Regions from separate parts of the Homo sapiens genome. Here region 1 is linked to region 2. The links come from fine-mapping of genetic effects on gene expression. A gene starts in region 2. The other region holds a variant in brackets. All regions are shown on one strand. Distances are from middle to middle. Region 1 has its middle 5.3 kb from the start of TPPP3. Region 2 holds the start of PLEKHG4 (pleckstrin homology and RhoGEF domain containing G4).

Region 1 (2,500 bases), 110 kb after region 2:
GCCAGAAGTTTCTTTGAGCTGCAAGGCTCTGAGGGAGCTAGAGCGAGCTTGTGCTCTGTGGAAATGTCAGTAAGAGCAGCCTCCCTGCACCCCCGCTGCCTCTTTCCTGGGCCTGTCTTTGTCTCCCAGGTAGGGGAGCATCAGCCAGTGGCCTTGCATCCCTGAGTTGTTATATTTCAGGGTCTCAGCCCAGTGCACAGGCCAACCTAATGGACACACCAGGGGGCAGGGAGGAATAATGCACTGCTTTCCTCCAACCCAGCCCTTCCTGCCTCCTCCATGAACACCTGATGGTGCTAGCCCCAGAATCCACTCAGGACACCTCCTAAGGGGAACAAAGAGCCTGGCCCAGTGTGTGCCACCCTCCACCCCATTTGCCATTGTCATTGAAAGTGACCGACCCTGCCCCAGGCCAGGCACCTGCTAGGTTTGCTGGCCACTCCTGGGGAAGTCATCTGTTTCTGATTTTTCCCTGTATGGCACTTGTTCTACAGGGCACGGGTAGGGGTTGCGATGTTAAGGAGAGAGCCAAAGAGCTCAGGGCAAACTGGACTCAACATGGAAAGCGGAGGACCCTTTAAACAAGCAGAAAACACGTGGAGCAGAATCCCACACCCTAGGCCTGGCACTACCACCAGAAAGCAGGACAGGTCTGGGATGGAGACTGGTCCTCAGGGAGGTTCTATGTCCAGAGGGAGGGGCAGAGCCACTCTTAGGTTGGGAGTTCTCCCAGCCATACAGAGCAGGTTTTAAAGGCTCTGTCCCTCTGATCCTAACCTCTCCTTTGTCTAACCTGATTTTGCTAGCAAGGGTATCCAAAGCTTTCAACCACAAGGAGGCTGTTAGGGGAGGGGCAGTGGCATTGCTGGGCAATGGCTGTCATGTGCCAGATTCTGCTAGACCCGTCTGGTCTTAGGGTCCTCCCAGCCCTGAGTGGGCCTTAAATTCCCTCGGGCTTCATAACGGCATTTCGAGAAGAGGCGGCTTTACTCCTATGACGTGGGGTTTTGGGGCTCAGCCATTCTCTCTGTGTTCTTCCAAGCCATACTGCCAGTCACAGGAATGGAGAAGCCGCTGGGCCCTCTACCATTGGATGGTACTGTCACCTGCAGTGGAATAGTGGGAGCCTGGCCCAATTTGGAACACAGTTAAATTTGTTTCCCTGTGAGGCTGTTCTGGTGAAAGCCAGAGGATTTGGGTTTCACTCCTATTATGTTCATTTTAAGCTTGCAATTCAAACGAATTTTCCAGGGCTAGAGGAATTGTTCCTCTGCATTTTTTTTTTTTCATTAAACGCCTTGCATTCTACCTCTTAACATTTGCTGGTGGGAGGATCTGCCTGAAGGTCCCTGAAGCTCTTCCCTGGGCCACTCAAGGAGACGCGGTCAGCTGGGTCAGGAGGAGCCGCGCTGTGAGGCAAGGCTCTGCTGTGGCCAGGTGCCCACCTGCTGCCTGCCGATTCCCGCCTGACATCCCTGTCTCAAGCCAT[A/G]CTATTCCGCTACACCCCTGTCCCCAAGGAAAGCTGGGCTTAAGGGATGTGGGGCCACCTGGGCAGGAGCATCCCCCAATAGACTGTGGGATGAGAGGATAAACAATGGTGCTGCTTTGTCTTGTGATCTGGGTCAGGAAAGCAGGCATTTGGGAACTGGCCCTTTTATACCTTTTCTAGCCCCTTTGGGAGCCACCCTCTCCTGGGTAGGCCCTAAAGTCCCATCCAGCCCCATTTTCACAGCAAGGAAGGAAGGAGAGGTAGCCCGAAAGCCTTGGCTTGGGAATAGCTCTGTCAAAACACCCAGAGCCTCAGTGAGATGATCTGGAAACGCCCAGGCATCCTCAGGACCAGAGAGGCTCCCTTCCCCCACTAGGGATGTGGAACAGATGGGAGGACATCAAAGAGGAGGCCCCTTTACTGAGGGATGCCCTGCTCCCACCACAGGCTAGTGTTGGGTGCCAAGCCCTATCACCAGTCAGCCAGTCCCAGTTTTGGAAGTCAATGCTGGGGCTTGCTAGAAAGAGCCTGGCCTGGGAGGCAAGAGGCATGGTCTGGCCTCTAGTCTGCAGAAGCCCCTCCACCTCTCTGGATGTTTCCTCAGCTATAAAATTACGGAGTCAGATGAGCTACTCTCTTTTTTTTTTTTTTTTTTTTTTTTTTTTTTTGAGACAAAGTGTCTGTTGCCCACACTGGAGTGCAGTGGCGTGATCTCGGCTCACAGCAACCTCCAACTCCTGGATTCAAGCGATTCTCCTGCCTCAGTCTCCTGAGTAGCTGGGAGGGACTACAGGCACGCAACACCATGCCCAGCCAATTTTTGTATTTTTAATCGAGACGGGGTATCACTATGTTGGTCAGGCTGGTCTTGAACTCCTGACCTCATGATCCACCCGCCTCAGCCTCCCAAAGTGCTGGGATTACAGGCGTGAGCCACCGCGCCCGGCCTGGATGAGCTACTCTCTAAGGTTCTGCCTGGCCCTGCGTTTTCTGTATTCTGAGCCAGAACCC
Region 2 (3,004 bases):
AACTGGGGAGGAAGCCAAGGTTGGATGATGCTTCCTGAAGCCAGGAGGGTGGGAAGAGAGGTCTGGCTGGGAGTTAGGGATGGAGCAGGACAACTCCAAGGCTCCCCTCTGGCAGCCAGACCTGCTCATGAAGAAGGCTCCTCGGTAGCTGCCTGAAAGTCTGGACTCTGGGGGCTGGGCTGGGCTGGGTGGGGAGATTGCTGTTGGTCCCACTGTGCCTGTTGTAATCCCCAGGTTCATGAAAGAGGTGCCTGCCTTAGAGCCAGGGAAGCCGTTGCACCCGGTGCCCCCTCTCCCCAGGGACCATGGGCCTGGGCACACTGTGGGGCTCAGGGTCTTCTCCTGGTCGCAGAGCTGACCTTCCCACAATCTTCCCACAAATTCTGGGGAGTGTCGGGCCAGGCCCACATGCCCTAAAGGGACCTCAAATCGCACAGCTACCCACTTGGGTAGCTTTCATCAGTTCAGGATTCCCTGACTGCGGGTGAAATGAGGGGGCAGGGCACCAACACAGCCCGAGTGCTGGCAGCGGGTGAACGTATAACACAGGGAGTCTTCCCCAGTCCTCACGGCAACCCCAGGAGAAAAATGACTTTCCATTTTTACAGGTGAGGAGGGTGAGGCTCAAAGAGCAGAGTTCCTGGAGCGCCCCCAGCAGGTAAGTGGAGAAGCCAGGCCTGGGCTGGGGGCTCTGGCTCCAGAACCCCACCTCAGCACCAGCCTCCTGCACCGGACTTTGTGGAGAAGGGGGTAAGGGGGTGCCAGGGATGGCAAAGGGGTAGAGGATCTGGTGGACTCTGGCAGGCCTGGGTCAGCTCCACCCATTGGTCTCACTCCCACCCGGATGGCAGCCCCATCCCACGTGGGATCATGCGACCTGTCTCTGGGTGCCCGCGGCGAGGCAGCACCCCGCTTCCCTACACAGAAGGCCTTCCCCTCCCGTCGGCTCATTCAGCCGCGGAAGCCCCTGGGAGACCCCGCCCCGCCCCGTCCCGCGGTGCCCCCCGCGCACTCACCCTCGCTCACCCACGCGGCCTTCCTGGCGGGAGAGCGCTTCCGGCGTCCTCGCCAGGCCCGGGGAGTGGGCACGGTGGAGCTGCCGACCGTTGGTCGCTGCCCCAACCCACGCACTGCGACGCCGCGGGTGAGGCGCGCGGTCTGCGGGGCCCGGGGGTGCGGCGGGGCGGGGCTGGCGGGCTGTCCGGGCCCACGGAGAGGACGGCGGCGGGCGGGGGTTGCTGCAGGGCCCGCACCTTGTCTTCCGCGCCGGCAGGGCTGTGCCCCGTCGAGACCTGCTCGGGCTGTGGCTCCGTCCTCCGGCCTCCAGGGGGCGGCGCGGCGCTGCGCGGCGCCCCGGCGGCACTGCCCTCCCTTCCCAGCGGCCAGGAGGCGGTGTCCCGTGACGCCGCGCGGCCGCGCTGTAGTGGCCGTCGAGGCCGCCGTCTGTTCGAAGGCTGTCCGACTTCACGGTTCCCCGCGGCTCGGCCCGGGGGCGTGAGTGTCGCCAGCGGGCGACGGGGGGGCGCGCGGTAGGCCCTGCAACAAGGCCAGGGCCTGGGGGGGCCGGCAGGAGAGCGAACCCGAGGCATCGTGGTGCCATGGCGGGGCCGCCCCCACGGGCATGGGCCTGCAGAGCGTGGCCGTGAGGACGCTGAGGGTGGGCGCGCACGGAGCAGAGGCCCACGGGCGTCCGACGGGGGACCTGGACAGAGGGACACCCTTAACGTTATTCCCTCTTCCCAGGCCTGAATTGCAGTTCCTGTGCCCTGGCACTAAGACTGGCACCTCCTGCGGCCCATGCCCTTCGCCTGCATTGCCCACTGAGTCCCACTCGACTGTCTTCAGCGCGGTTCACACTGAGACCCAGCCCTCTCCCGCTGGCCCCGAGCAGGCCCACCTTTAGGAGGGCGTGATGGAAAGGCCCCTGGAGAATGGGGATGAGTCCCCAGACTCTCAGGGCCATGCCACCGACTGGAGATTTGCTGTGTGCAGTTTCAGGGATGCCTGGGAAGAGGAGGAACCTGCTTCCCAGATGCACGTTAAGGACCCAGGTCCTCCAAGACCACCAGCCGGGGCCACCCAGGATGAGGAGCTACAGGGCAGCCCCTTGTCCAGGAAATTCCAGTTACCCCCAGCTGCAGATGAGTCGGGGGATGCCCAGAGGGGCACAGTAGAAAGCTCCTCAGTCCTGTCAGAAGGGCCAGGCCCCTCTGGAGTGGAGAGTCTCCTATGCCCCATGTCCTCCCACCTCAGCTTGGCACAGGGTGAGAGTGACACCCCAGGGGTAGGGTTGGTAGGGGACCCAGGTCCAAGCAGGGCGATGCCATCTGGCTTGAGCCCTGGGGCATTGGACAGCGACCCTGTGGGCCTTGGAGACCCTTTATCAGAAATATCAAAGCTGCTGGAGGCAGGTAAGGAAGGCTGGGCTAGGGAAGTCTGGGAAGGGAATGGGGATGCCTGGAGAGATGAGTGTCAAGACTTTGGAGGTCTCTGACCCTACTCAGGCTGAAGCCCGGGTCCAAGTAGGGGTCTCTGGATAGGTGGTCCAAGGCAGACCCAAGTCATTTCCCTTCCCAAGCCCCCAGTGGATCCGGCCTCCCTAAGCCTGCTGACTGCCTCCTGGCCCAAGACCTCTGTTGGGAGCTGCTGGCCAGTGGTATGGCCACCTTGCCAGGTAGCCAGGCGGGCCTAGAGGCGGTGGAGGTGGAGTGGCCCAATACGGCAGGAGTTCACTGCTTCCTCCCCACAGGGACTCGGGATGTCCAAGGCCGGGCAGTGCTGCTTCTGTGTGCCCACAGCCCAGCCTGGCTTCAGTCTGAGTGCAGCAGCCAGGAACTCATCCGCCTCCTGCTGTACCTGCGAAGCATCCCCAGGTTTGAGGGAGGGGGTTGGGAGACTGAGCCTGAGCCAGCTGTGAGGACTGGGAGTCAGGTACTGAACTGAAGCTCACCCCTTTAGGCCCGAAGTACAGGCACTGGGACTGACAGTGCTAGTTGATGCCCGA

The links.
Region 1: its variant is fine-mapped to the expression of PLEKHG4 in whole blood (TOPMed, PIP above 0.99).

What each region holds. Positions count from the first base shown.
Region 1 is chr16:67,386,901-67,389,400 of GRCh38, forward strand. No RefSeq gene overlaps it. Among named protein-coding and RNA genes, the nearest start is that of TPPP3, 5.3 kb to the right of the region's middle. The variant A/G (reference allele first, on the strand shown) is at 1,490.
Region 2 is chr16:67,278,133-67,281,136 of GRCh38, forward strand. It overlaps PLEKHG4 (pleckstrin homology and RhoGEF domain containing G4), which reads left to right and starts at 1,400. Exons shown (of 22, transcript NM_001129729.3): 1 at 1,400-1,494; 2 at 1,744-2,411; 3 at 2,579-2,674; 4 at 2,750-2,873; 5 at 2,959-3,004. The coding sequence starts at 1,913. LOC124903701 (a long non-coding RNA gene) reads right to left here and starts at 1,279. Exons shown (of 3, transcript XR_007065092.1): 1 at 1,017-1,279. RefSeq lists silencers at 893-1,052, 1,103-1,532, 1,252-1,433.